Linked DNA regions of Homo sapiens: all the other regions are linked to region 1. The links come from fine-mapping of genetic effects on gene expression. Tissue or cell type: whole blood. Region 1 holds a variant in brackets; each other region holds the start of a gene. Each region is shown on its reference strand, or each on the opposite one. Region 1 has its middle 53 kb from the start of IKZF1. Region 2 holds the start of ZBTB47 (zinc finger and BTB domain containing 47). Region 3 holds the start of NFIL3 (nuclear factor, interleukin 3 regulated). Region 4 holds the start of TNFSF13B (TNF superfamily member 13b). Region 5 holds the start of IFI30 (IFI30 lysosomal thiol reductase).

Region 1 (5,979 bases):
TAAAATACAGAACTAAAATATGACAGATTAGAAAAACAAAACAACAGGTTTATTTTAAATCTCATGAAATTAAGAAATCTCTAATGAAAATTTTCACGTTATGAAGAGAATGCACAGAAGCAACTTCTGAAAAGGAAAATAAATTCAAACTATAGATGCTTCAAGAAATAAAAAGATGAGTATACTGAGTACAACCTGATGGCAATTTAATATGTAAACCAAACTAGAATTAACAAATTTCTAGAAAAAAAATAACTTAACGAATAACTCAAGGAGAGTTAAAAAAAAATCAAACAGTCCAACATCCCTTAAATCTGTTGAATCAGTAGCATAAAATCTTTTGAGAAAAGAAAATATCATGCCTGATAATTGTACAAGTAAATTCCTGCACAATTTATTCAAAAAATTCTAACCTTATACAAACTTTTTTAGAGTACAGAGGAAAAGAATACTATTTAGTTGAGTTTATGAAGTTAATTTGCTCCAAATACTAAAACCAGATAAGAATAAACAGGTGAAAAAAAAAAAAGCATAGGCCAATCTCATTCATCTGCAAAGAACAAGAGAAAGAACATCAGCATGAAATCTAACATGTATAGAATGTTATGGCTATGTAGGGTTTCATCTTATAACTACATGGTTTAGCATCAGAAAACTCATTGATAGATAAAAATATTTATACATAAATGGGGAAAATGAGAAAAAGCGACTTAATAGCATTCATTATTCATGAAAGTATTGCTCAGAATAGTAGGAAATTAAGAAAACTTACTTAAACTGATAGAAGGAGGCTACTAAAATCCTAGGAAAAACATCGTATAAAATCCTAGGAAAAACATCGTATTTAATGGTGGGCTGTTAAAAGCCTCCCGTTTAAAATGAGTTGCATGATGACGATTCCTAATATCACACTTTCCTTCAACATTATATCTGAGACTGTAGCCAGTAATCAAATACAAGAAGAGGATACAAAATAAGAGAATGGCTCGTAAATGACTAGAACATCTAAATGACATGTAAGATGTCAAAATAAGAGAATGACATCTTAAATGAATAGAACAAAGCCATAATTATTTGCAGATAATATGATGTTCTGTAGAAAATCCAAATGAATCTGCTGATGAATTATTAGAATTAAATAATGGAATTTTAAAAGAATGTGTGATACAAAATAAATAGAGAAAAGTTAATTGCATTTGTATACCTCAGCCAAAAGTATTTACAGTGTGGAAATTTAATATTAAGTAATATGAAATTTACAATAGAAACCAAAATTGTAATTACCTAGGAATAAACATAATATTAATAGATGTACAAATTTAGAAGACCTAAACAAAAAAATTAGATATCTGTATAGGAAGACTTAATATATTAAGATGTTAATTATCTTCAAATTCATCCTTCTATTCAAGAAAAATCCAAATTTCCAGCAGGTAATTGGTTACATCAAGCTAGCTCTAAAATTTATATGTAAGAGCCAACAGTCAAAAATGAGCATTGCTGAAGGGAAGAATACATTGGAAGGATGGACATTATCACATATCAAGACATACTATAAAAATATGATCATTGAGATATGTTTTATTTGTATAGAGATAAACAAATATACTTACAGAATAGAGTACCCAGAAACAGACTTAACAAAAAAATAGAAACCCAGTTATGACAGCTAGCATTGAAGAACATGGGAAAATGGACAGCAACAATTACTTTTACATAGGGAAGAAAATGAACTAGGATTCCTATCTCACATAATACACTAAAATCGTTTCAAGGTAAATTTATGACATAAATGTTAAAAGCAAAACTATAAAAGTTTTGAAAGGCAATGTAGTAGACTATTACCATGTATAGGGAAAACTTTCTTAAAGAGTCGAAAAACACATTCGCAGAAATGATTAACCAATTGGTCTGAAAATTGAGGTACAATGAAGACGTGAAAAGATGATACACATCGGAATAAAATATTTACAACACAGATCACTGAGCAAGTATTTTTTAAAACATATAAAAGAGTCCCAATATATAGATACAAAAAAGACAATTCGATGGAGAAGTGAACAAATTACTTCAATGGGTACTTCATGCAAGAGAAAAATAAAATATGAAAAAGATGCTCAATCTCATTAGTAAGCAGGGGAATTCCAATCAAAGCCACAATTATATTACAGTGGCAAGAAGCTTAAAGATTGACAATATCAAGTGCCTAGGACATTGTGGGACAGAGGAGTAGTGAGTACTTTCTGTGCCTAACACACAGGAGGGCGGTTGTGTAACCAGTGTTACAAAGGGTGTTCCTTGACCATGAAAAGCAAGTCCAACAAAAGAGTGAAGAAGCCAAGTGGTTTTAAGTGCAAATCAAAGTCCCTCAAGTTAAAGCAAAACCAGTCACACTGACTATATTTTCAATGTATTCATTTAGTGCACCTAAAATCCATTCAGTGTCCAAAACTCTGATGATCAAATTAATTCAAATAACAATATCACAAAATCATAGTAATGTGCAAACCAGCTGCCATCTATTTTTGTAGCCATAGTGAGAGATTATATTTTAGATGATGATAAAATAGTCACTAAAATGATTTTTAAATTGTTAAACTATTACAAGCATAGTCAGTACTTATTATGCTTTATTATGATCTGAAAGTCACACAAGTTTGTAAACTATCATTATTATAAGAACTGTTTTAAAACAGATGACAGGGGTTGTGTTTTTTCGTTATTGTTGTTTTGTTTTCTGTCTTTTAAGACATTTTCTGTGAAGCAATAGATTCATGAAGGAGAGAGAACAGCATTGATAGGAAGTAACTAAAACTTCATTTCATTCAGCTTGTGCACATGTACCCTAAAACTTAAAGTATAATAAAAAAAAGTTAATAGATCCTCCATGAGCTTTAATATCCAATGTCCTCATTGTGAAGTTGCCTCAATTACGTGTGCTACAATTTGCAAACCAGTTAAAAATAAAAATGATAAATTGGCAACTAAGTTCAGCCAGTCCTGGAATTCTAAAATTCTAGGATACACCATTGATTACTGGTAAAAATACGAAGATTCTCCATCATCTTGAATTTTATAATTCTGACAGCTTTATGGAAGGAACATATTCTGCCATTGTCCTGGGCATCACTCTACAAGCTTTCTTGCTTGTAAGTAGATCTGAGCCAAGTG[C/A]CAGGGCTGCAGAAGCAAGTTCTAGGGCTTTGGAGTCAGACAGCATTGGATTCCCACTGAATTAAGTACTGTGCTTCTGCGCCTAGCCTCAGGTTTACTATGTATAAATGAAGTCTAAATAACCACCTGGTGGGCTAGTGCAAGTATTAAGCACAATAATGCCTCTGAAAGGCCCAGGACATTCTTGGAACAGAGAAGCTCTGTTTCTGCTCAGCCTGTCTCCATTCCTGCCTGATTAGCTCAGGACGCCACAGAGAGCAGGAGGGGCAGCCACATAACAGGTTGGGGGGTGTGTCCATTGGACCAGCTTGCATATCATCTCACCTCTGACTGCACTGTCACTGGCCCTCATGTGCTCTCCCTTCTTTGTCTGCTAAGACCCTCCCAATGGTTTGCTGTTGACATCCAACCTCAGCTCTGTTCCCTAGACTCCGATGCACATCTCTCCTCTCCAGAACCTGCCTCTATGGAGTGGCATTAAACATCTGCCATCCTGAGCCCTCGCTGGTATGGTCCCAAGACCTCCCACAAATGTCACAAGTACCACCAGATACCTGAAACATTCTTTCCCCAACTCTTGTCAGAATGTCCCAACCATAGGCTCTCAGCTTCAGTTCTGCCTGCCTGGTGACATGCCGGCCTGAGGCAGTAGGACAGCCTTGCATGTTTGGCAATAGAGCTGTGCTTCTCTGAATGATTTAGGAATGATCTGGGTATATTAAAAAACTAAAAATCCAAGGTGTCTATTATGATACATGATTGCCAAATCTGCCACTCTTTATCTCCCAGTTGTTCCTTGTCCCATTACAATTTGGTTTAGAATTAACCCATTCCCTCCAACCGTTCTTGCTGGCTTGTAATTGTAATATGTATGCAATGGACACAAAATCTGAAGCATCTCTTCCTGAGTCCCGGTCTGCCTCTAACTTGCTTTGTAAATAGTCACTCTGTCTGTTTAAAGTGTCTCCACCCTCTTCCTTCTATCTTCTGTTAAGCTACAGGAATGCTGTTTTCTAAAATGCCATCCTTTATGGAAAGATCATGACATTCCTTTCCATAAAATCCTAAAATGTCAAACATAAGAATCATTTGGTTCTTTGTAATACAGCTCTAGCTTTACCTCCCACTATTTTTTCAAAACCTAATATGTACCTTATATTTATTTCTTCATGTATCTTACATTACAAACATATAGACCCATGTGCACTTTTCCAAATTGATCATATTCTTTCTTTTTACAGTAATGTTTTCTGGAAACAATCTCAAATTTAGAGATAAGTTTCAAGAACACTACTAAAAAGTTTGTACCTTCAAATCATTGATGGCAGGTTGTGGACATAATGCTCAATCTATCCCAAACTAGAGTACATTTTCTAAAAACAAATAAATTACCCAAAAACATATTCCATAAGTCTATCAAAATACAAAACTAAAATTGTTATATGACTGCCATTCAATCCACAAACCCAATTCAAGTATCGTCATTTGGTCCAAAATATCCTTTATAGCAAAGGGATCAAGTTTAGAAACATGCATTGCTTTTAGTTATAATTTCTCTTTAGTCTTCTTCAACCTGAAAAAGTTACTCAGTATCTCCTTGACTTTCATGTTCTTGACAGGTTTGAAGAATACAGGCCAGGTGTTTTAGGAATTTCTCCCAATTTGGATTTGCCTGGTGTCTCCTCATGATTTGCTGTGCTGTGATTTGTCTTGCTGTGTCCTATCAAGTGAAACACAGTTTCGATTTGTTTCATTACTAGTGATGTTGACTTTGATTGCTTAAAGTGGTAAGTGTCATGTTTCTTCACTGTAAAATTGTTTTTTTCCTTTTTAATTGAGGGTTTTATGGGTAGCTGCTTTGAGAGACTATGCAAATATCCCATGCCTCATTAAAGTTATAATTTGTTCACTTATTTATTGTCTATATCACTATGAACTATTGGTTCCCTATTAAATTCAGTGGATTACAATCCATTACTATACTGATGTATTTTAATGTTTAAATTCTTCTAGATTTGAACAGTGGGACCCTCTTCAAGTTTTCTTCTGTGTCCTTTTAATGTGTTCCTTTTCAAACCTTAACAACTTTCTTACTTTATCACAGCAAACTATTCCAAGCTCATGTCATATTTTCTCTGTTCTAGCTTTGAAATCAACCATTATTCCAAAGATCCATGGTTCCCATTTGGTGGAAATGGTATTGCAAAACCAAGAGCTGGATCTAGGTGTACTCATTGCTATTGAATGTTGCTGTTTCTACTATTTCTTGGAGACAGAGCTAGGGCATATCATTGTATAAATACCTACACATAGGTGATAATATGGACAAATCTACAGATAGCTTCGATTTCAATTCAGAACCATAGTTTTAGTTTGGTTCCTTTATATTTCTAACATCCTTCTCCAACAATAAGAAACTAGCTCTCATTATTCTTAATATTTATTTGATTAATCTCCTTGGCCATAACCAATCTCCCTCTCCTGCACTGATGCCTCTTTAATCCCAGTTGGCCCAGACACCTCACATCAGGCTGCATGGCACACATCCAGGTCTTGTTGCAAGCTAAAAGCCTACCAAGAAAAAGGACAACACTTACCCTATATTGTGTCTTCTTCCGAGTATCAACTCCACTGTGGCATCTGCCTATGTTCATTCACCCCGGTGCCTTCAGGTTATATTTTTGTGTTTTGTCCAGGGTTTTTAGCTGGTCTCTGGGAGGTTTGGTCCAGCAGGAGCTAACACAGCCATAGCGGAAGCTGCCATAGGATTTTGTTTATTTTCTTTTCCTTCTGTTTTGTATTTGTGAA
Region 2 (5,979 bases), not on the chromosome of region 1:
TCCTAGAAGCTGCAAGAGAGACGTGAAATGCCAAAGCCATGATGTTTATGCTGTGAGGGAACCAGGCAACCTACCGGTTTGCATGAGGCCCCCAACCCAGGGCAGCTGTAGCCTATTAGTGCTGGGTTCAGTGGAGGCAGAATTCAGGTGTAAACTCCACCCTTAACCCACCCCACACCCTGGGGATTCATGTTTTCCCGCCCTACTAGAACTTTGGGCTTCGGATCAGCGCCTAGTGGGTAGCTTTGAACTTCCCTGCCAGCCCACTGGCCACATGCTGTGCGAGTTGAGTTGCATTGCCTGTATTTTTCTGGCATTGCCCACTCTGCTCTCCCTCTTCCCCAGGCTCAGCTACACACAGCTCCATGCCCTCCGGGCTGACTCAGTCCTGCATTGTTCCCACACACATACGCATACCCACAACCTGGGCTGTTCTTTCTAACTTCAGTGGGGTTGAATCTGGTTTCCCCAACTAAGCCTGGGGACACTCCAGCACTGAGGGTAGATACTTAGGGAAATTGAGAGAAAACCCATGAGCTGTCTTCTAGAGGCAGGGGCATAGCTTTGCTGACCTTGTCAGGACCCAATCCCAAATATGTGAAGGATCACTAAGCTCTGCCCTTGCTGGGTGAGCGTCTCCAGACTCCTGACTCACCCCTGGGGCATGCATTTCTGGCCCAGGAGTCAACTCCCCAATAACTCAGTCCCTCCCTCCAGAAAGCCTGCCTTGACCTCCCTGAAGTGAAGCTCCTACTGCATGCCCCTCATCAGGACCAAGAGAGAAATTCTGCCTCTGCCTAGCTCCACCTGTTCACTCCCACCAACCAGACAACTCCTGATCGATAGGAATCTTGACTCCACTACACCAAATCCCCTCTAGTTCCCTGCAGATGCTAAATTGTCTCCACCTCCTGGCCTTTGCAGGCTTTCTGTCTGGAAAGCCCTTTCACTCCCTCATTGCTCTAGTTAATGTTCAAGTTCAAGCCTCAGCTCTGAGCAGCCCTGTGGGCCCACCAGACAGCTCTTCAAACCACTCCTTCCTGCCAGGTCCAGTGTTGCCAGGTGCCCACAGCTGCTCACAGAGCTCAGGCTCTGCCCTGGGACTCCCCAGCTGATGAGCTGCAGGCCAGAGAAGCAAGAGGGGAACAGCCGAGGCCTTCAGGGAGACTGAGTGCCTCCCCACCACCTGTCCCCTCCCTTCTCACCCAACCTCCAGCCCTTTCTGCAGCTTGACTGCTGGAGCTAAGGCCCCAGCAAGGCCCCATAGGGCCAGCATCACTACCTCAGTCACGCTGGCCACACCCTCTGTCAAGCTTTGGCTTGGCAGTGGGCCTAGCAATGTCCCATGCAGCTCTCTCTGCCAGGCTTCTTCCAGCCCGTGGAGGGGTCCCTTCTCCCCACCTCCCCTTCCCCTGGCTCCTGATGCTGATGCCTAAGTGATTTGTCCCGCTCTGAGCCTCAGAGTCCTTATCCAACCAATGGGCACACAGCCCCTCCCTAACTAACTCCTGGGCCGGTGCTAGGATCCACTGTGAGTCAGATGAGGAAGTGGGCTGGGGAGGAAGAGGCAGAAGGCAGCCCTCAGCGGGCTAGCTGGTCAGAAGCATGTAAGCTGCTCTGGCCTGGCCTTAACCTGGGGCCTCTGGGAGCTGGGCCAGCTGTCTGTGCACCCATGCAGGTACAGGATGTCTGCAGCAGCTGCCAGGGGCTTCCAGATGCCCCAGGTTTGGCCCCTGAGACATTTTCTCCCTAGCTCTGGGATAGCCTTATCCTGAGGCCCTACGTATTCTGGCAGAGAGTGGGGGTGGGGGAGGAGGCCCTTGCAATCTTACAGGACAGACCATCAGGCTGTTTCACAGCACCTGCCTAATACCCTGGTCTCTCCTCCATTTCTCCTCTGGCACCTAGAACCAAGTCACCCTGAGCCAGCGCCAGAGTTCCTGCCCACTCGTGAGTAGGACAACATACCCAGGAGATACTGCTGCAGCTGGACATGGACTTGTATGTAAACACAAGCGCACATATGTGGGGAGGGGTGTGGAATATCAGGATGGGGGCAACATGAGAGTGACCCAGGATGGGCAGTAGTGAGCTTGGGGTAGGAGGAGGGGATGTCCACAGAGGCCTCTCCTCTACAATGGTGGCCCAGTCACCATCCAGACCTTGCCAGGTCTAGTGCCCCGTGGTCCCCACCCTGCTGCCTGCTCAGCCTGGCAGCCTTCCTTTACAGCCTCCTGCCAACAGAGCCAGCCCCCTGCCCCCACGGGTGTCCATGCCAGAGCAGCATTCCGCAAGCCTGGCTGCATCTCCCCAGCAGAGGCTGAGCAAGGGGGCCACTCAGCAGTGGTCAGGTCACACGGCTAGAGGGGCACAGTGGGGCCTGGGCCTCTGGTCCCTACTCCTCTGGTCCCTCTGTCTCCTGGCCCTGGGCCAGTCACCTTAGATGATTTGATCGCTGCGGTTGTAGTCCTGGGATTTAAATCTCCTGCCCTGGGTGGCCCTATGCAGCATGAGGCCGCCAGGTAGGTATGGGTCCACTGGAGCCAAGTCCTGGAGGCACAGAGCAAAATGAGCCCTGCGCCGCCCTGGGATAGGGATGGGGGACTGGACCAGTTGGGGACCCCAGACTCACCCCCAGGTCAGAGCAGCCCAGGCGAGAGGGTGGGGGTGGTGAGCGCGGCTGGGGTGCGGGGTTCAGTCCCTCAGCGTGGGATCCCTCAGGGGAGCGGGTGGAAGCCTTTTCTGTTCGGATCCGGGGCCCGGCGCGCTCAGCTTCCTGATTTCACGGCAGCTTCCTATCCTGGCTCCCCCTCCGTGGCGCAACCGGAGGGCAGCGATGTTTGACTCCCGGACGAACTTCCCGGCAGAAAGGAGGCTCAGCACGGGAGGGTGGGGCCGGGGTCTATCTGCTCGGATATGAGCAGTGGGGACGGGCTGGGGGCTGGAGCTGGGGCTGGGGGTGGAGGGCAGCCTGCGGCAGGGCGGGCTGCACGGGGACCGCGCACACCACGCGTGTCCGCGCCCCCCGCCGGCACGCAGGCGGCCTGGCCCTTTAAGCGTCCAGACGGCGGCCCCAGCTGACGCGCGGGCTCCAATCGGCGCCCCGCGCCCCCCGCCCGCCGCGCCCGAGGCTCTGGGGCCGCAGCTGCTTGGCGCTGGACTCGCCGCGGCCCTGCGCCTCCGCCTGCCTGGCCGCGCCCCCGGGGGCCATGGTCGCGGGGCCCTGCGCGGGGGCGGCCCCCAGCGCGGCGCTTCATGGAGCGGCCCTGGCCTGGCCGCCGGGGGCAGCGCGATCCCGCGGGGCCCTGTGAGCCCCCAGCGCCACGGCACCATGGTACGCAGGGCCCTGCCTGTCCCCCCGCTTATCCGCCCACCTGCCAGCTCTGACCTCCCAGGCACACGGCCCGCGGGCCCGGGTGGAGGGGCTGGAGGGATCTTCCCCCCTCCCCCGGTCTCCCGGCTCCATCTGCTGGGTCCCGCGGGCCGGGAATGCGGCGCTGTGGCGCTGCTCTCGGTGGGGAGGGGGTTAAATTCCTGTGGTGGGGGCGCCGGCGCGCGAGGCTGAGGTCTTGCTAGGCACCGGCGAAGGGGGGCGCTCCCCTGCGCCCGGACGGCGCCGCCCTCGGGCTGGGTAATGGGGGGAAGAGGGAGTCGGATTCCCGCCTGGGCCTTGGGCCACGTGGGCGCTGGAGCCGCCCTGCCTGGGGATTCGGGATGACCCGGGCCAAGGGGGTGTGGGAGGACACCCAGAGCTCCCGTACCAACTCCTGTGTGACCTTGGGCAGATCCCCCGCCCTCTCTGGGTCTATTTCCAAGGGAAAGAGGGGAGGTAAGTGCACAGAGGAGGCTGGCATGGACACTCCCTCACCAAAAGGAGGAGCCTAGAGGTCATGAGCCTGTGCCCCCTTGCTCAGTCTGGGCCCCCCCACTGCTGCCCAGCATAGAAAGAATTGACATGGGAGGGGGGCGCAGATGGACTCCCCAGGTTTCATCATGGGGCCTTCCAGGGAGGCTCTGAGGCAGGGTAGAGAGATGAGGCTTCTCATCAGTGAGGCAAGGTACCCCTCAGGTGTAGAAGGCTCTGACTTGGGTGAGCAGCCTGGAGAGATGTCTGGCACCTGGCCAATCCCCAGCCTGACTTGGGGCAAGGGTTTGAGGGCATGAAACCCCCTGGCAACCAGAGTGCCTGACCACCTCCCTGGTCCTGCATCTTAGCTAGGCTGGAGTGACCTGGACTGCAGCTGGCACAGCCGGATGGGGAGGGGCACGCATTGCTTCCGGGAACCAGCACATCTGGCTGTGGAGGCCAGCACAGCTGGTGGGCATTGTGTGGGAGGGGCCAGACATGGGGGTGGCTGAACCCTGCTGAGGGGCTGCCAATTGTGGACTCGGGCAGCATCTCTGTGCCCAGTCAAGAGAGTCCAATCAGGTCATGAGGTTTAGGGCCCCCCAAGGGCCAAGGATGGTGCTGCCTTGGCTGAGAGTACTACCTTAGCAATGGAGTGTTTGAGAAAGCACTCCCCTCCTTTCCTGCTGAGAGGCCAGAGGGCCAAAGTCAGGCCTCATTTGGCCTAGAGGCCAAAGTGCACATGGGAAGGTTGCCCTTTCCCTGTGGCAGGTGGGCACAGGTGGGCAGTGGAGGGCATTCCATAAAGGGAGAGCAGAGAGATCTGGGGCTCTGTTGCCTGGGGTGGACTTCCCCCAACAGGCCTGGCTTCAGCAAACCCTTATCCAAGCCACTTCTCCTGCCAGTCTTTGGCCCCTGGAGGCCCTAAGGAGCCCCTGTTGCAACCCAAGTTGTACCCTGATCCTTCACTGACCTGCAGGTGCAGTGGCTCTAGGGAGGAGGGAGCAGGTAGAGGGGATAGTGGTGAGTGTGGGGAAGCACGGCTGGTCTCCAGGTGGCGGGATGTTCTCGCTTTTTAAGTCATTAAAGGCTCAGAAATCCAGCCATGTGGGGTCTAGCAAGGAAGGGGTGGTCTTAGCGGAGCTGGGAGTCCAGGGGCTCTGGACTGTGGAACCCTCTCATTCTGAGCCTCGGTTTCTCCATCTGTGTAGTAGGGGTTGGTCCCAGAAGATGAATCAGAATGAGTCAGAGGAGGGAGATGGGAGGGGCTTGGTGCCACGTCCCAGTTAGATTGGCCAGGCCTGGACAGCCTGGGACAGAGGGAGATGGATGGCTTCTTGGCTGGGGTAAGGGGTGTAGTGGAGAACTCAAGGAAGATGGTAGCCTTGGCCAGGGGCCTGGCCAGACTGGGATGTGAGGGAACACAGGATGGCTGCTGCCCTGGCTGCTGGGTGTAGGGGGCAGGGTCCAGGGCAGGCCTGGAGACAGGTGGCCCCTGGTGGCTCAGGGAGGCTCCTGCTGAGGCCCACGGTAGGTTTCTCATTCAGGTGACTGAGAAGTGGAGCTCAACCACCACCACCCCTGCCCAATCCCAGCCTACCCACTGCTCTCCTGGCGATGGAAGGCCTGGCATGGGGAAGGGGGGCGGTAGGCTGTGGATGGATGGGGCCAGGATTCATCCCAGGGTCCCCAGGGAGGCACTGACAGCTATGGAGCTGATGGTTTTGTGGCCATCAAAATATTGTGGCAAGGTACCTCCCGAATGCAGGAGGCTCAGACCTGGTTGGGCAGGCCCTGAGGAGAGCCAGAACTTGGAACCAGTGGTGCTGGTCCAGCTGGGCTGGTGGTTGGTGGATATTAACAACATCTGCACATCACTGTGTGATGGTTCTCGTGCAGGGACTGGGCAGGCTGCCTGTCTGTGCTGCCCACCTTTTGGGGAGGCTGCTGTGGTAGAGCCGGGGTGACTGAGTTGGCTTCTATTCCAGGCAATTCACAGGTGCTGGATGTGGCCCACAGGCCTGATAGTCTGACCCATCAGACATTGAGGGCCTCCGCTAGGGCTCTGGAAGCCCCAGATGGTGTGGCCTCTAAGGCAGGGCTTTCCCAGAGCCTGTGGACATGGACCGTAC
Region 3 (5,979 bases), not on the chromosome of region 1:
GGTTAAAAAAAATCGGCTCAACTCAACTGGCCAAAGTCAAGCTGAGGCCTTCCTTTTAATCACTATCAATACTGGAGCGCCTCCACCCCCAATTTCTGTGGCCGGTGGACGTTTGGAGGTTTTTCTTAAGGTCTTTTTCACTTCAAGAATGGAGACGCGCTTGGTTCCGAAATACAATGAAGACTCTTGGAACAAAGGTGTCTGCAGGTTTCTGAACCTCACCGCAGAACAGGCGCGGAGTCAGGCCCCTGGATTTGCCCTGTTGGAAGGAGGGCCGCGGAGACGCAGGCGCTCCGGGTCGCCCGCGCTGCCCCTGTCTGCCCCGTGCGGGAGCCGGGGTCCCTGGCTCCCTGGCTCCCTGGCTCCCGCGGCCCGGGCGAACCCAGAGCGCACCCGTACGCCGGCCCCGGCCGGTCCCTAGCGCCCGGGCTCCACGGGCCGCGCCCCCACGCGGCGCCTCCCAGAGACCCTCCTCCCTCCGGGTGGGCGGCGCAGCGGGGCCTCGGCGCCGCGAGGACCCCCCGCGCCAGAACAAAGGAATGTGGGGAGGGGGCAGGGAGGAGCTCAGGCCACTGAGCAGCCCCAGTATAACTGCCGTTCGGAGGCGCTTCTCGGTCCCGACCCGAGGTCCCCGCCCGCCACTACCAGACCCGCCCCCAGCCCCGGATTCTCGCAGACCCCACCGGCCCGCAGGAGGGAGCGGCGCACTGGGGGCCGCACGGACTCGCCATTGGAGATCGCGATCGGAAGGTGGCGCCACGCGGCCCCTACAGGCCTGGGACTCCCACCCGAGCTCGCAAAGTAGGTCGGGGTCTGAAGCTGGGGGCCTAGAGCAACTAGCTTCTTGGAAAGCGACTGCAATTATTTGGGGTAATATACTCTGTTCCAGAGACGTCCACCCCCCACCTCCCACAAAAAAAAACCCTGCACTTAATTTAAATGTTACGTTATATATACATCCCATCATATACATATATTCACACATAATCACTATGTAACAGTCCAGGAAGAAATTTAATATTTGGGTAAATTACATATTCACACATCTTCACATAAGTAAAACCAGGGTATCCAGACAAAAAAACAATCTACTAACCTATATCTGTTTCCCATAGGTCATATCTGGTCTGGGGGTAAATAAATACTTCTGACCTCACTTACTGTTGTTATTTACAAAAGCCAAGAACAGAAGATGACACTTGGCCATTCCCTGCTGTTCTCAGAGAACAGCAGTTTCCTAAAGTGTCCTTTAAAAACATAAATGGGAGCCAGCATCCAGCAAATCACCGGGCGCTGCGAAATGCCTTCCTAAAAATACAATCTTATCAAAGGTCTCCGAAGGCGTGGAGTTAAAACTACAGCAAATGGCCTTGAACTTGTATTTGCACACAGCCCTGGAGAAAACACCAGAAATAGCACTGCGAGGCCACAATTGTTAAAATGTGATAGGGCTAAATTTAGAAGAACGTGCGTTTCATTTAGGGCAAAAGACACACATTCGGCAGCATGAGCAAACTCCATGCTTACCCGGTTGTCTACTTTCCTGTTTAAAATATCCTTAAGGAAAAAAAAAAAACTGTTATAGTGACATTCTTAAAGGCTGAGACTGTCCTACTTTCTTTGTAGCAAGATTATAAAATCACGTAATTAGCTCCCTCTCTCTATGCTCACTGCCAGCAAATTCGGCAGTTACATAATGCAACATTTCCAGGAAACTATTATGTGATTTGTCTTGTCGTGTCTGAAAAAGCAATGACAATAAGGTGAGAAAAAGGGCTGATCGAATGGAATGCATTAAAATTAGGAAGGTGGGGAGGTAAACGTCACAATGGTTCGTCCCAGATTTAAAAATAACAGCTGAGAACATTGAAAGGGCGAACCCCAGTAGTACCCAAGATCAGAATTCAATGCGAGCAATTCTTGCTTTTAGGTTTTGTAGTATCGTTTTAAAACCTGTTTATTTGGGACGTAATATAGACGTAAATAACGATCTAATATCCAACGCTGCGCCTCAATTACCAAATCATTGCACACATACGCGCATATTCCCACATCAGCCCGCAATTCTTGCCAACATTTCACCGTGGGCAGATTATGCAATGTATGAAAGGACAAATCCCACAACCTTCCCGAGGGCTTGTAAAACACGCTGACGACAAACAGGGTGGAAAACGTCTGTGCAGACACAGCCCCTGACACAAACAAACGCCGCGCAGGCATTCTCCGAATGCCGTCACCGTTCACGCTACCAACCCTTTTTCTCACCAAGCAAATTAAGACTATTCCCCATTCCTCAACCCCCCATTCCTCTCCCCCCTACGCCGCCAGCCCCAGAGAAGGAACGAGAAAGAAAGACACTAGAGAGGAAAGAGCATCTTCCCGCTCGGAGAGGGCTCAGCCTGCCTGGCGCTCTTCTTTACCAAAACATCAATTTTCCTGAAATCAGGAGACATTATGCAACAGCAGCGGGGGGAGAGCGCAAACCAGCCAGGACTACGTGCCGGCGCGAAGGCGCTGCAATCAAAGCAGCCACCTTAAGGTGGCGAGTCCCATCCTGACAAGGCAGCAAAAGTTTATGTAATGAATGCCCCGCGCGCACTCGCCGCCGCTGGCGAGCCCAGCTTACAGCCCGACCCCGCACACAGCGCGGCCCGCACCCCGCGCCCGCCCGCCCGCCCGCAGCGCGCCCTGGGAGCGGTCGCCGGGCCCCCGGCCGGCGGTGGGCGGAGCGCTTACCGTGTTCCTGCTCTCGGGCCGGCGAGGAGAAAGAAAGGGGCGGCCGGGAGTCGGGCCGCCGGCGCTCGGGGCTCGGGCCGGGCCGGGCCTCCGGGGCCGCGGCGGGAGGCGGGCGGCGGCGAGGGCGCGGCGCGGGAGGCGGGCGGGCGCGCCGGGTCCGCGGGCGCCGTGGCCGCGCGGAGAGATGTGTGTTAGTAGGTCAGTTCCGAGCGCCGCGCTACGTCGCCGCCCGCCAGCCCCGCGTGACTGGCGGCCGCGGCCCCAATCGCCGCGCCCGCACCCGCCCCCGGCCCGCCGCCAATGGCCGCGGCCGGCAGGGGCGGGCCGGGGCGGGCACTCCGCGGCCCCGCCCCGCCTCCCCGCCCTCAGCTCCCCCTCCGCGGCGGCGCCACTACCAGCTCGCGTCCCTCCCCGGCCAGGGCCACCGCCGTCCGAGCGCCCGCGAGGGCTGGCGCCCCATTCCCGGCGCAACGAGTGTTGCGCAACGGCCCACGCGGCCGACACGACCGGAGCGAGCCTGCGGAGGAGCCCGGGAGCCCCCCGTCCCACCGCCCCGTCCGCTCTTGGCTCCCTTCACCCTCCCGGTCGCCGCGGTGGCTCTGCGCTCCCCGCGACCCTCACTTGCTCGCAGAGGCGCTTTTTGTCTTCCTGAGAGCCGCAGCCTGCTGGGCTACCTGTTGCCGACTGAGCACTGCGGGTTGCGGCTACCCGGGCGTGGCCCGGACCTCGGCCTCCCCTTCCCCGCACACTCCCGAGAGGAGCCCTCTACCTTGGGGTGGGCAGGAGGGAAGGCGGGGGGTGGCGGCTGGCAAGCTGCCAACACTCGGGGCGCGCTGCGGCGGGGAAGGGGTTGGCGCGGCCGGGCAGCTGCGCAGGGCTGCGCGGCGGAGGCAGCGATTAAAATGTCCCGGCGCCTCTCCCGAGAGCCGCGACGGCCCGGAGCCGGGAGGGAAAGCTCCACGCACAAACACCGCCCCCTGCACAATTAGGGCGAAGATGACGGCTGCAAAGTTGTTGCGTAACACGACTGGGAAACGAGGCTCGCTGAGGTCCATCTACCCACCCCCGCCACGCGGGTGCGGCGTTCCTCGGAGGATGTGAAGGTCCGCGCTCGGGTGCCCCCGCTGGGACGCCCACTGTCGTTTGGTGCTGGGGCTTGAGACGACCGCGCGGGATCTCTTCCTGTGATTTTGAGCTGATAGCTGCTTAGTGTTATTTCTGCGTCTAACTGGATACGGTAGTCTTCTCTCCCAAATTCCCGGGCTACGGAAGAGACGTAAAAAAATGGAAAAAAGAGCACCTAGCCGCGACTTCTTAAGTCGTCGCGCTAGACTGTCAAGGCACGTGGCACACTCCCTGCGTTTACCGATACACGGATAGTGGTCAGTGCTGGCCTTGGCGAAGGGAGCCATGTTCCCGACAGTGACTCACAGGCTTGCCCAAATACGGAGTGTGGCAGGTGGGCAGGACCTCCACCAGCCAGCTCCCTCCTGGTCTCCTTGAACTACGTGGGGGCTGGGCCGAGTGCCTCCACGACTTTCCACTTCTTTTTGCTCCTTTCGTTTTTAAAAAGCAAAAACCAAAGTAAAGAGAAGAGCAGAGTGAACACCCAGGTACCATCCCTAGTGTCTGCCATGAGCAGCAGATCTATCTACTCGCCAAGATTGTCTTTTCTACCTTTCCCCTTCTTGCACAGTTAATATCATAATAACGCAAGTCATATTTAAAAAATTTTTATCACCTATCAGTTGAGTTTTTGGAAAGCCTTCCAGGGCAGCGTTGTGGTTTTGAACGCACTCTTGTTCGTGATTTATCTGGTAGTACAGCTCTGCTGACAAGGCTCTGAAAACTCAGACGTACAATATGGGCTTAGCGTGTTCCCCGACACCATCTTCCCGGTGCTGACTAATGCAAGAACCACATCCCCTCCACTACACATTTTCCAAACTTGACTACCTTCATGAGAACAAATCCTGATTTTAGTTTATAATTTCCACTTTTCTCATACATATATAATAATTCAAGATGTGGTCTTACTATGTTGTCCAGGTTGGCCTGGAACTCCTGGGCTCAAAGGATCCTCCGGCCACAGCCTCCCTGGTAGTGGAATTACAGGCGCATGCCACTGTGCCTGGCCACTTTTCTCAAATTTACTGATAGTTTCCTTTTTGCCCAAACCTTACAATGCTTATTTGTAGCTTTGAGAACCTCTCTTAGATGAAATCAAAATCATATCCATATTAGTTGCCTTTTTGGGGTCAGAAATGCAGCTATTGTCTAGAAATCCAGGGCTGTCCTGCATAATCTACCCTCCCCTTCACGTGTTCTGACCTTGTTCTGCATTTTGAATAATTTCATGGAATTTCAAAGCCGTTGTAGTAAATGTCTTTCTTTAAAGACAACTCGACCTTCAAGACAGGTAAAGAACGTGCCTGGAGCCACCCCAGGCAGTGATGCTGGAGGAGTTCTCTCAACCTGGAAACTTATTCTTTATGCTGAATTTTGAAATCGAATGCTCCTATATTTACTTGGAGTATTTTAGATTGTGTATGTATTATATCTGTGCATCATTCATTGTTACCATCTAACTTGGAAATCAGAGGAAGTGTGAAAGGTATCTGAGATACCAGCTTAGAAAACAACTCTTTAGCTCCTCCTGGTGATTAGGACACCACTAAACAACAGGATGAAGGATCTGTCCCCAGGGCCGAAGTGATGATGTATCTAATATTATATCCTAGAACATTCACAGAGTAGGTAAGTATTTGCAGATTAACTCGAGTAAATGGAGCATAAAAACCTAAGATATTTGAAACAAATTAACCAGGGTGGGGAGGCTTCTAGGAAGACATCAGCATGTGCCTGATGGTGGAGCTGGGCTGTAAGGTTCTCAGGAGGAGGAGGAAGGGGTTCTTGCTCTCAGCAACCTCTCAGTGCTAGGGGTGGATTGAGGGCAGGGGCAAGGGAGGAGGTGCCTGGACAGGGATGAGAACTACCAGCAGAAGACAATCAACCACATTCTAATTCATTTTATTATACTGCCAACATGGTTTCTGACTAAGCAAATATAAGAGCTATAGCTTGAGAACAGAATGACTAAAACAGTGACTTCTCCTTACTAAAATGGGAATTAATAGGAATTTGTAATTTAGTAACAACTTAATTTAATATAGTAATAATTTTTCTACAGCTGCAGAATGTCTTGAGCTGGAACATCCCCAAGAGGCCATATATATATCCCAG
Region 4 (5,979 bases), not on the chromosome of region 1:
TCACAAGTTATATTCTTTTGAATCCTATCTGCCTATTTCTGAGTGGATAGAACAGTTTCGTCAGTCACAAAGTCCTAGTATCTCAGTTTGTTTATTGAATGACAGAAGAATGCTTTACACTTACATTGAGAAAAAGATGTGTGTAAAAAGCAGCTAAATACTGTCAATAAACACTGAATGTATAATAAGATCGCTGCACAATCTGTGGCTCAGATACAGTGGCCTTTTGTCCCTGAATAAACTTGTGATGTGGTGTATTATTCAATGAACGTGAACATGCTTCTTGTTTAACAGAATTTCTGTTAAATTATTGCCAAACCATTTCCTCTTCCGGAAACAGATTCTTGATTTATGGAGTAATGACTTCCTTTTGTTCATCTAATAAGAGATTCAAGAGTCATGAATGTCACTTCGTTTTCTACCTGTCTTTAGAGAAAATGCAGCTGTCAGATCCCTGTGGAGGATGTGCACATTGCCATCCCTGCTTGCTGTCCCTCTAGCCAGAGGGACATGATGGCTGCCCTTTGTGGAAGAAGAACTTGCCCATTTTATGCATGGCACGGCTCACTGCCGCAACAAACATCGGCACTGGTTTAAAAATGGCTGCGTGCAGGCTGGCCAGTGACTCTCTTTTGAGATGTTCAGGCATGAAAGTCTCTGCCCAACACAGTGACGAAGGCAGAGGGAATTCCCTAAAGCAGTCAAATCATTCCCTGTCTTCAGAATTTTCTCTGAGGGATATAGAGGGGAACGACTCACCAGAAGAGGGAGAATGTCCATGGATGGAGAGAAGCAGTGGCTACAGGAAACCCTGAGTGAAACGCAGAGAGAAATTGCTTTCTAGCACTGCGTTGCATCCTTTCATTTCTGCATGTATTTAAATCATAAGAATACACAAACACATCATCTAAAGGATCTCAATGACTTTCAGTAAGAAGGCCTTCATACAATTCCCATACGAATTCCATTTTTTATGGCAAGGTTACTCCGTATGACTCACCCTAATTGTTCTGGAACAAGAACTGACAGAAAAGAATTGGACTGTCATTCCTGATGCAAAAGGGTTTACAAACATCCTTCTAAAAGAAGACTTCCACCTGAGAAGGTTGATGGAGGACCTCTTGTCTACGTACCTGTTAGACTGGGGCACGGTCACCTTATTGTGGGAGTTATAGGTAAGAAAAATTAGAGAGCAGCTTATTTTGGGGGCCAGGATAATAACAAGTTATTTTTAAAAGGTCTTGGAAACTTGCAGATGCAAAGGGAAAAAAACAAAAAACAAAAAACAATCCTAATGGTAAAAACAAGTAAGTCTGACTGCGTCATTTTGTAGTAAGACAATGAGGAAATGGGAACTCGTCAGAGGGTAACTGGGTGGTGCCTGTAAAAGTGAAGATGTGCTTCTCCCTCAGCAGGCATTTGCTGGGAAACCCTTGCAGACGTTACAAGCACAGTTGTAGAAAATATCTATTAGAGCACTGTTTGTAACTGAAAAATGTTTCATTCATACTTTGAATGTAAAGAATAAAAGTGAATGAAAAAATGGAAGCATTGCACCGTGCTTTTGATTTACATTTCCCTGATCATTTAGTACAACCACCATGGAAAACAGTGTGGAGATTCCTTAAAGAACTAAAAGTAGAACTACCATTTGATCCAGCAATCCCACTACTGGGTATCTACCCAGAGGAAAAGAAGTTGTTATACGAAAAACATACTTGCACACACATGTTTATGGCAGCACAATTCACAACTGCAAAAATATAGAACCAGCCCAAATGCCCGTCAATCAATGAGTGGATAAAGAAACTATGATACATATATATGATGGAATACTACTCACCCATAAAAAGGAATGAATTAATGATGTTCGCATCAGCCTGGATGGGATTGGAGACAATTATTCTAAGTGAAGTAACTCAGGAATGGAAAACCAAACATTGTATGTTCTAACTCACAGTGGGAGCTAAATTACAAAGATGCAAAGACATAGGAATGATCTAATGGACTTTAGGGACTCAGGGGAAAGGGTGGGAGGGGGGTGAGGAATAAAAGACTAAAAAATGGGTTCAATGTGTACACTGCTCGGGTGATGGGTGCACCAAAATCTCACAAATCACCACTAAATAACTTAACCATGTAATCAAATACCACCTATTCCCCAAAAACCTGTGGAAATAATTTTTTTTTAAATGGAAGCATCCAAAATGTAATTTGTTTCCACATTCTTGTAAGCCTCATTATGTATCCCAGGGACAGTTAATATCGTCATACGAATTCACAGGTGAGGAAATGGAATCACAGAGAGATTATGTACTTTGCATAAGGAGAGCGAGGGTGAGGCAGGATTTGCAGTCTAGAAGCCTGGGTCTGGAGTTCTCCACTTTGCACTATATCATTTCTGTAAACTTCTTACTTAAGACTGTGTGGAAATGTAGAGTGAGACAGAACTAAAGCTCACTATTCTTAGTCCACAGGGGAGTAGTGACTACCCAGGGCTTGGTAAGTGCTCAGTAACGTTTGTTGAAAGATGAATCAATATTTCAATGCTGGGGCAAAGCAGTGAAAAACTGGGGAATGTCCAGGAACCAGCCATCAGGATAAGGCAGGACTAGAATGAATGCAACAGTCCTCACAGGTCCACCAAGTCAACAACAGAAAAATCCAAAGCTAAGGTGGCTCTTGTGTGATCAAGGACCTCTTGTACACCGACCTGTTAGGCTGTGGCACAGTCAACATGGGAGTTGTAGACAAGCTACTTGAGAGTGGTTAATGGTAGCAGTCAGGCATTTGGAGCTGGAGGCAAGGCTGATTCTCCTCAACTAGTATCATATTGAGCGGGGACTTAAAGCCTCAGAAGTCTGAGCAGAAAAGCTGAGACCAGGCTCCTTGGGACAGGCTGTTCATATGCATGATTGAGTTTCAGTGATGAGTCCCAGAAGGAAAAAGTTTATGCATGTTTTCCTTAAAAATATATTCACTTATATTTAGAGAATCCTTCAGATATCTAACCTAAATACGTCTGTAACATTTACTCTCATTCTTTTTATGACATTATTAGTATAATAATATGAATAATTCCCAGTGGACTTACTTCCACACTTCCTTCAAGGATTCTCCATTTTATTTCATAATTGAAGACTGTTAATAAATCACTCTCTAGCTAAGAACAATTCAATGCTAAAACACTTAGCTTATCTGACCTTCACATTAATTATTTTTATGACAGCAGCAGGAACTTTCAGCTGCTTTTCCCCCTTCCTTATGAAGCCATGTGGTCCCAAGCAGACAGAGTTCCCTTGCTACACTTAAGGGTGGGCTTCTCAGACCTGAGCATATCTTAAAAGCTTTCCCTTGACTGTGCCAATCCAAACTCCAAGTTTCCTCAGCAGATTTAAGGGGTTTTAAATCTACTTGAGCATGAGTGTTATGAGAAGACTTTGAAATTCTTACAAAAACTGAAAGTGAAATGAGGAAGACAGATTGAGCAATCCAATCGGAGGGTAAATGCCAGCAAACCTACTGTACAGTAGGGGTAGAGATGCAGAAAGGCAGAAAGGAGAAAATTCAGGATAACTCTCCTGAGGGGTGAGCCAAGCCCTGCCATGTAGTGCACGCAGGACATCAACAAACACAGATAACAGGAAATGATCCATTCCCTGTGGTCACTTATTCTAAAGGCCCCAACCTTCAAAGTTCAAGTAGTGATATGGATGACTCCACAGAAAGGGAGCAGTCACGCCTTACTTCTTGCCTTAAGAAAAGAGAAGAAATGAAACTGAAGGAGTGTGTTTCCATCCTCCCACGGAAGGAAAGCCCCTCTGTCCGATCCTCCAAAGACGGAAAGCTGCTGGCTGCAACCTTGCTGCTGGCACTGCTGTCTTGCTGCCTCACGGTGGTGTCTTTCTACCAGGTGGCCGCCCTGCAAGGGGACCTGGCCAGCCTCCGGGCAGAGCTGCAGGGCCACCACGCGGAGAAGCTGCCAGCAGGAGCAGGAGCCCCCAAGGCCGGCCTGGAGGAAGCTCCAGCTGTCACCGCGGGACTGAAAGTGAGTTTGCAGCAGCTGCAAGACGCAGGCAAGATCCTGCCTACACTGCTGCCTCTCCCTCGCCTCAGCTGTCTTTCTAATAACTTGAAGTTTTTCTGTTCATAGATCTTTGAACCACCAGCTCCAGGAGAAGGCAACTCCAGTCAGAACAGCAGAAATAAGCGTGCCGTTCAGGGTCCAGAAGAAACAGGTATGTTTTGGGCACAGACACTTTTAGGAGTCAGGGATTAGAGAATAACATCCAGTCTGGGGGAGCTGGAGGTGAGTATCCCCTCTATGAACCTATTAAATAGAGACTATGAAATTTGCCATCCAAAGCAGACATTGCTTTAGAGCAAAGCCCCAGCGCTGGCAAATGTAACAGGCTGCATGGGTGTGCTTTTTCCTCCAATGAGCAGATCGTGTGACTGGAAGCATTTCTCTGTGCGTGTGTAAGTATTTATCTGTGCATTAAGCATAGAGGAGATAAAAGGGCCATATGTGTTTCCTCAGGTAGATAATGCCCTCCCATGTGAGAAGCATTATTCATCACTCCAGAAAAATAAAAAAAAGCATTACATGTTAGAATTAGACTTTGCTTACTACCTGGGTCATAGAAAGTTAAAGACATCTGTTTTCTGAATGTACATTACATGTTGTGAAACCAGGTGAAGGTTGTAATGAAAGGCCCTGTATGTTGTACTTTAATTTTGTTTATTTGTTAAAAAGGTTATTTTACACACACACACACACACACGCACAGACACACACACAGATTTTAAAGCTTCTCTTTAAGGTACGCTTTTCCAGGGGATCCATGCATTTATCGTCTTCTTATAATCGTCCTTTACTGATTTCTGACTTTCTTCATGTTCTGCTCATTCCACGGAACTTTACAGAGTTGGTGGGGCCTACCAAAATGATCGATTCTAGTTCTTTCATTTGAAGGTGAAAAAAAGAATCTTTGTATACATTTATTAAAGTTATAATATAACAAATTCTTAATATTATTGTCCTTTTATTAAATATATTGAAAGAATATTTTTTGAGCACCTGGAACGTATCGTACAGCTATAGACCAGAATAGGCATTTTCAAACATACTATTTCGTTTAACCTTCACAGTGACGCTATGAAGTCCACAGAATACATGCAATAATTTATGTATATTTTCACTTCTGAAGAGAATTGCATAAGAAATGTAGTGAGAGATAGACCAGGGACCCTTCTATCACACACACACACACACACACACACACACACACACACACACACACGCATGAGGTACCCTGACTATAAACTTATTTTTTGACTATATGCTTTATTCATAAAAAATTGTTTCTTATTTTATAAAACCATAATTTTTGGTATCTGGTTATTGTATCTTTATACTAGTTATCAGGAATAACTGGGCTTAAACATTTTTAAATTAGGAAACATGCACATTTTTATTATTTTAACACATCAATTATTTTTATCGTCTGCATTTTATAGTCTATATTTCCTACATAATTGAAAATAATACGGAATATATACTATAATATTTTTTGTTTTGACTTATACAATAAGGATTTTTCCTATTTCTAAGTATTTTTCATATATCTGTATTAATTTATCTAACAATTGTTTTAAATGGTTATTTCCATTCTCTTTGCTATAATACAACATGCAAAAGTTTTGCACAGAACTCTTTTATTTCTGTGAAATTATATATTCAATATAAAATTCATATAGTGGAATATCTGAGCTAGGGAGAAGAAACATCTTCATCACCCTTGCTTCCGACTGCCATATTGTTTTCAAAATGAGTTATACATGCAATCAAAAATGTGGTGTACCGGTTCTCCACATTCTTGCTTGCATGTTATTTTTAAAGTGTATTTTGACTAGTTTAGTAGTTGTAAAACAATATCTCACATTTATTTTGATGTGTTGCTTGTTTACTAATATGAA
Region 5 (5,979 bases), not on the chromosome of region 1:
AGCAGTCCTCTCATCTCAGCCTTTAGAGTCACTGGATTACGGGTGTGTGTCACCATGTCCAGCTAATTATTTTTAAATTTTTTTAGAAACAAGATCTTGCCGAGTGCAGTGGCTCACACCTGTAATTCCAGCACTTGGGGAAGCCAAGGCAGGCAGATCACTTGAGGTCAGGAGTTTGAGACCAGCCTGGCCAACATGGTAAAACCTGGTCTCCACTAAAAATACAAAAAAAAATTAGCCAGACATGGTGGCGCATGCCTGTAATCCCAGCTACTTGGGAGGCTGAGATAGGAAGATCAGATGAACCTGGGAGGTCAACGCTGCACCAAGCCAAGATCGTGCCACTGTTCTCCAGCCTGGGTGACAGAGTGAGACTCTGTCTCAAGAAAAAAAAAAAAAAAAAGGGTCTTGCCCTTTTCCAGGTGGGTCTCAAACTCCTGGCCTCTAGTGATCCTCCCACCTCAGCCTCCCTGAGTCGCGTAAGCCACCACGCGTGGCCTCATGGCGTCTTTGACTTGGACTCCTGTTTACCACCCTCCCCATCACACCCAGAATCCACACCCCCACTGCGACGTCATTGTCCCTTCAGCCCTCCCCAACCCTGGGGCCTCACTGTCCTTGTCTGTTTTGTACAGCCACCTCTCAAGGCCCAACAAGGCTGAACCTGGGGCAAGTGCAGAAAGAAACCTCCACTCTGACCCAGTCTACTGCTGGGACCTTGGGACAGGACCTGCCTCCCTTAGCCTCAGAGCCCCCTAGCCTTGCCAGGCACTGTCCCTGCCATGTGTCCTGTCTGGAGATAACCCATAAATAACTCCAGCCCAGATTGTGCCTCTCACTGCATAGGTGCTCACAGGAGAAAGGTTGCCATCTTTATGATCCCAGCTATGCTGAGCTGGGGGTGGAAGAGAATATCCCGTGTGGTCTCTAAAAACACTCAACCACTGGCTGTGTGTCCTTGGCAAAATAGCCTTCCCTCTCTGATCAGCCATTTATTTGTTACCAGCTGGAGTCAGTAGCACCTACCCCCAGCCCCAACTGGATGCTTCTGAGGGTTCAATGATAAAATGGGTTGTAGGCCCACTCTATGCCTGGCACCAAGCCAGAGAGCAATACATTGTAGGGTTACATTTATGATTTCTTCCAATAGGGCTGGTGCCTGGTAACTACTGGAAAAATTGTAGCAATTATATTTATGGTTATTTCTTCAATCCCACCCGGCATAGGGTAAGCACCAAAGTTGGGGTGGTGAGTCTTGGGGAGCCTTTGCCAACGGTTTGGTCGTCTGAGGGATGGGCTCGGGGACCATCCAGCCACTGGGACTTCAGAGAAGCTCCGGCTCCCAAACCAGCTACTGTGTGTGTGGCCAGGGTCTTCCCCACAACTAGAGGGGGGCACAGCTGGGGACTCAGGTATATCTTCCAGCTGGGTGTGGGACATTTTCTTCCCTAGGATCCGATGTGTCTTGCCCTGAATGTAAGGCCTGGCAGGGTTGGAATGTCTCAGTTATTCCCCCAACACTCCAGCCTCCATCTGGGCCTTTTTTCCAGGCTATTCTCTCTGCCTTCACTGTTGGGGCCACTGTCCTGTGTAGGCACCAAGGCCTGACCATGCCATCCAGAAGCCCCAGCCTGGGACAACTCTCCCCCACCTGCCTCTGAGCCCTCCATGGTGACTCTTGTTCCCCAAACCTTATCCTTCTCCCCATTACACAGAAGGGAAAGCTGAGGCTCTGTCACTCAAATCCAAAGCCAGGTGGACTCCAAGCCACCCCACCCCTATCCCAGACAGCACAGGCTGCCTCTCTCCCCCATGGGCGTCCCTTGAAGGCCAGGTTGCCCCCCACCCCCCACAAGCCTTGAACGATGAAAAGAAGGAAGGCCAGTTCTCTTCACCCCAAGCCAGAAGTGGGGCTGGGTGGGTACCCTAGAGAAATGACACGCCACTCCCTGCGCCAGCTTCTGCTTTCCGGCGTGGCTGTGGTCAAGCCTGAGTCAGTCCCACGGGACCACGGTGAGGGGTCTGGAGCGTCGGGGTCAGGAGTTTGAGGGGGGAAGGGTTGAGGGGCAGGATGTGGGGGTTGGGTGTGAGGGAGGTCACGGGCGAGACTGGAGGGAGGAGACCTGGCCACACAGGCCTTGCCCACTCTCGGGGGCCTGAATATTTCAGTTACTCCCCCAAAACCCCGGCCTCCATCCCATCCCCAGCCTCCATCCGACGTCACCCCTGTTAGGTCACAGGCCCACTCTGAGAGTGGGTCTCGGGCCTCAAGTCCCCTAGCCGCCCCTAGAAGGTCTAGGGGTGCGTGGAGACACCACCATTCCTCTCAGCCTGTGTCTGTCTCAAAGGCCCCACCTCACCTCCCCTAAAGGTAGTCTTGCGCCAGGGCTCACGTGCCTGGGCAGGGCTGATTGCCAAGGGGCCCAATGGCCTCGTGACTGGGGACCCAGCACCTGGCAGGGGTGGGGGTGGGACACTCAGAGGAAGGAGTGGAGGAGGGAGAGACGCTGGCCCGGGACCCGAGGGGCGTGGGCATCGGGAGGCGGGCCCGGGTTAGGGGCGGGACCGCCGCCTGGTTAAAGGCGCTTATTTCCCAGGCAGCCGCTGCAGTCGCCACACCTTTGCCCCTGCTGCGATGACCCTGTCGCCACTTCTGCTGTTCCTGCCACCGCTGCTGCTGCTGCTGGACGTCCCCACGGCGGCGGTGCAGGCGTCCCCTCTGCAAGCGTTAGACTTCTTTGGGAATGGGCCACCAGTTAACTACAAGGTAGGGACGGCGACAGGGCGGGCAGGCTGGAGGGAACAGGCGCCCTGTCGGGGCACGCGGCTCCTTCTTTCTCCCCAGACTTCACAGGGGAAGACCAGGGCCCCGAGGGGACGCTGTCCCTGCCGGGTTCCTGGAAAAACCCTGTTCAGTTCCCGGCGCTGCGGCCACACTCCCTCCGTGCCGTTTCGCTTTCGCATCCCGCATCTGAGAGGCGCAGCTGCCTCCACCCGCCTAGTCCCGCCCAAGGGTTCAATGAGCGCCTACTGTGTACTTTTGGGGCAGGAGCTGGGGTCTCCTTTTGTGGCCCAGGGCACAAGTTCAGCAGCTGGCCAAGGGCCGCCGGCATGCATTCTTGCTGCTACCCTTGATGCATTCATTCCAGCCAGGGCAGGGCTCGCGTGTCTTTGGGACCTATTAGGCAGATGCCCTAGAGGCTGAGCGACTTGCTCACCGCTCCAGCGACATGGGCCACCCGCCACCCCTCAGCTGAAGCCGGAAGTCAGCACCTATTAGGTGCCGCCTCTATTCAGTCGGACTTGGAAAGGGTTCACGTGGATCCCTTGCTCAGCTCAGAGGCAAGGTCTCCAGGTGAAGTGACAAGAAATGAGCATGGGCCAAGGCCGGAGGCGGTGGCTCATGCCTGTAATCCCAACACTTTGGAAGTCTGAGGCAGGCAGATCACGAGGTCAGGAGTTCGAGACCATTCTGGCCTACATGGAGAAACCCTGTCTCTACTAAAAATACAAAAATTAGCTGGGTGTGGTGGCATGTGCCTATAATCCCAGCTACTCAGGAGGCTGAGGCAGGACAATTGCTTGAACCAGGGAGTCGGGTGTTGCAGTGAGCCGAGATCGTGCCGCAGCACACCAGCCTAGCGACAGTGAGACTCCATCTCAAAAAAAAAAAAAAAAGTCTCAAAGTCAAGATTCCACCTGGCAAGTTCTGGAAGGCGTGCAAGATGAATTGCGTATCACAGCCCCCTTTCTACAAGACTACCAAGTGGGGTTGAGAGAAGTGGGGAACTGCCCAGGGCTACACCTGCCTCCCACGCCTTCCTAATCCACAGACAGGCAATCTATACCTGCGGGGGCCCCTGAAGAAGTCCAATGCACCGCTTGTCAATGTGACCCTCTACTATGAAGCACTGTGCGGTGGCTGCCGAGCCTTCCTGATCCGGGAGCTCTTCCCAACATGGCTGTTGGTCATGGAGATCCTCAATGTCACGCTGGTGCCCTACGGAAACGCACAGGTGTGTGGGCGCTGGGGAAACTGAGGCACGTGGGCAGGGGAGCAGGGGACCCAGCCTACCAGCAGGCTCTCACCCTGCTGCCTTGCAGGAACAAAATGTCAGTGGCAGGTGGGAGTTCAAGTGCCAGCATGGAGAAGAGGAGTGCAAATTCAACAAGGTGGAGGTGAGCGGCCCCAGGGCCCCACACTGGGGTGGGGGAAAACTGTCCCACGTACAGGAGGCAAATACGAGGATGCCAGCTCTGTCTTCTGCCTCGTGTGCTCCCATTTAATCACATCTTTATTCCCTATCTCCTGGGTGGGTACTGGTGATTATTACGAGAGGGTGTCAGGGTACCCTAGGCCCTCTTCATGCCCTCTCCTGCCCCCTCTCCAAACCCCAGGCCTGCGTGTTGGATGAACTTGACATGGAGCTAGCCTTCCTGACCATTGTCTGCATGGAAGAGTTTGAGGACATGGAGAGAAGTCTGCCACTAGTGAGTGACGCCCCTCACTCCACCCAAGGAGGGGGACATGGGTGGTAACCTTCCCTGCATCCAGGCAGACCCAAATTCAAGTCCTAGCCCTGACCACTGCTGTCTGTGCAGCCCAGGAAAACAACTACCCTTCTTTATTTTATTTATTTTTTTATTTTTTCTTGAGACAGAGTCTCGCTCTGTCGCCCAGGCTGGAATGCAGTGGCGCAATCCCAGCTCACTGCAACCTCCACCTCCAGGGTTCAAGTGATTCTCCAGCCTCAGCCTCCTGAGTAGCTGGGATTACAGTTGTGTGCCACCATGCCCAGCTAATTTTTGTGTTTTTAGTAGAGACAGGGTTTCACCATGTTGGTCAGGCTTGTCTTGAACTCCTGACCTTGTGATCCGCCTGCCTTGGCCTCCCAAAGTGCTGGGATTACAGGCGTGAGCCACCGCACCCAGCCCTTTTTTTTTTTTTTTTTTTTTTTTTTTTTTTGAGACAGGGTTTTGCTCTGTCGCCCAGGCTGGAGTGCAGTGGTGCAATCTTGGCTGACTGCAACCACTGTCTCCTCAGTTTAAGTGATCCTCCTGCCTCAGCTTCCCCAGTAGCTGGGACTACAGGTGTGCACCACCATGCCCGGCTAATTTTTGTATTTTTAGTAGAGACAGTGTTCACCATGTTGGCCAGGCTGGTCTCAAACTCCTGACCTCAAGTTATCCGCCTGTCCCAGCCTCCCAAAGGATTACAGGTGTAAGCCACCACGCCCGGCCCCAGCCTCCCCTCTTGAAGCCTCCATCTCTGAATCAGGGGAATGAATGCAGGTCTCTTAGGAGCATGAGTGATCACAGAGGACTTACTGGAGGAGGCATTTCTGAGCTGGGCATGGAAGGATGAGCAGGAATGTGCAGAGACACAGATGATGGGATGTGGAGATGATAGGACAGACCCCACCTACTTCCCCGGGGGATTGTGAAGAATGACTCCCAGAGAAGTGACTCATTGGCTCCAATCATTTATTCATTCATCAAACATCCGGGTCACCCAAGAGGCCTCACCTAGTGACACCCTAGTCCTGCAGGGTTAGATCAGGGCTGAGAGAGTGGCAAGGAGAGGGCACTGAGGAGACACTGTGGAAGGAGGATGAAGGGTGTTCCTGGCAGAGGGATCAGCCTGTGTGGAGGTCCTGAGTAAAGTGAGATACTATGGGGGTCAGAGGCAGTGGGTCTGGTCTTAGGGATGAAACCAAGGGAGCTAGGAGGCAGGAGCAGCCCAAGCCCTGCCTTAGGGGCCTCCACTCAAGCATGTATTGAGCACCTGCTGTTTGTGGGCTTTGTCGCATCACTGTGAAGCCAACTGTACCCTCTTCTCAGTGACGAAACAGGCTTGGCTCAGGGCTGGTGGGCGGGACCGTTGAGATAACGGGGAGGAAGCTGAGGCAACCCCCTGCTCCCCACCCACCCAGTGCCTGCAGCTCTACGCCCCAGGGCTGTCGCCAGACACTATCATGG

Evidence for each region. PIP is the estimated chance that this variant, and not a neighbour inherited with it, causes the effect.
Region 2: ZBTB47 starts here. The variant in region 1 is fine-mapped to the expression of ZBTB47 in whole blood (TOPMed, PIP 0.91).
Region 3: it holds the start of NFIL3, and the variant in region 1 is the best candidate, but not a certain one, in a credible set for the expression of NFIL3 in whole blood (TOPMed, PIP 0.80).
Region 4: it holds the start of TNFSF13B, and the variant in region 1 is the best candidate, but not a certain one, in a credible set for the expression of TNFSF13B in whole blood (TOPMed, PIP 0.71).
Region 5: IFI30 starts here. The variant in region 1 is the best candidate, but not a certain one, in a credible set for the expression of IFI30 in whole blood (TOPMed, PIP 0.56).

Annotation. Positions count from the first base shown.
Region 1 is chr7:50,248,530-50,254,508 of GRCh38, forward strand. No RefSeq gene overlaps it. Among named protein-coding and RNA genes, the nearest start is that of IKZF1, 53 kb to the right of the region's middle. The variant C/A (reference allele first, on the strand shown) is at 3,172.
Region 2 is chr3:42,651,362-42,657,340 of GRCh38, forward strand. ZBTB47 (zinc finger and BTB domain containing 47) reads left to right here and starts at 2,336. Exons shown (of 6, transcript NM_145166.4): 1 at 2,336-2,522. It overlaps ZBTB47-AS1 (ZBTB47 and NKTR antisense RNA 1), which reads right to left and starts at 3,027. Exons shown (of 3, transcript NR_125400.1): 1 at 2,633-3,027. RefSeq lists enhancers at 2,310-2,951, 5,016-5,310 and silencers at 2,957-3,316, 3,357-3,436.
Region 3 is chr9:91,420,904-91,426,882 of GRCh38, forward strand. NFIL3 (nuclear factor, interleukin 3 regulated) reads right to left here and starts at 2,929. Exons shown (of 2, transcript NM_005384.3): 1 at 2,737-2,929. It overlaps LOC124902209 (a long non-coding RNA gene), which reads left to right and starts at 719. Exons shown (of 2, transcript XR_007061661.1): 1 at 719-801; 2 at 1,116-1,156. LOC105376146 (synapsin-1) reads left to right here and starts at 3,130. Exons shown (of 2, transcript NR_188612.1): 1 at 3,130-5,493; 2 at 5,927-5,979. RefSeq lists silencers at 2,867-3,266, 5,577-5,773.
Region 4 is chr13:108,266,187-108,272,165 of GRCh38, forward strand. It overlaps TNFSF13B (TNF superfamily member 13b), which reads left to right and starts at 3,532. Exons shown (of 6, transcript NM_006573.5): 1 at 3,532-4,048; 2 at 4,154-4,238. The coding sequence starts at 3,710. RefSeq lists enhancers at 3,568-3,997, 3,949-4,457 and a silencer at 4,358-4,437.
Region 5 is chr19:18,171,207-18,177,185 of GRCh38, forward strand. It overlaps IFI30 (IFI30 lysosomal thiol reductase), which reads left to right and starts at 2,607. Exons shown (of 7, transcript NM_006332.5): 1 at 2,607-2,767; 2 at 3,834-4,016; 3 at 4,105-4,179; 4 at 4,399-4,491; 5 at 5,934-5,979. The coding sequence starts at 2,636. RefSeq lists a silencer at 2,352-2,661 and enhancers at 2,972-3,041, 3,169-3,834.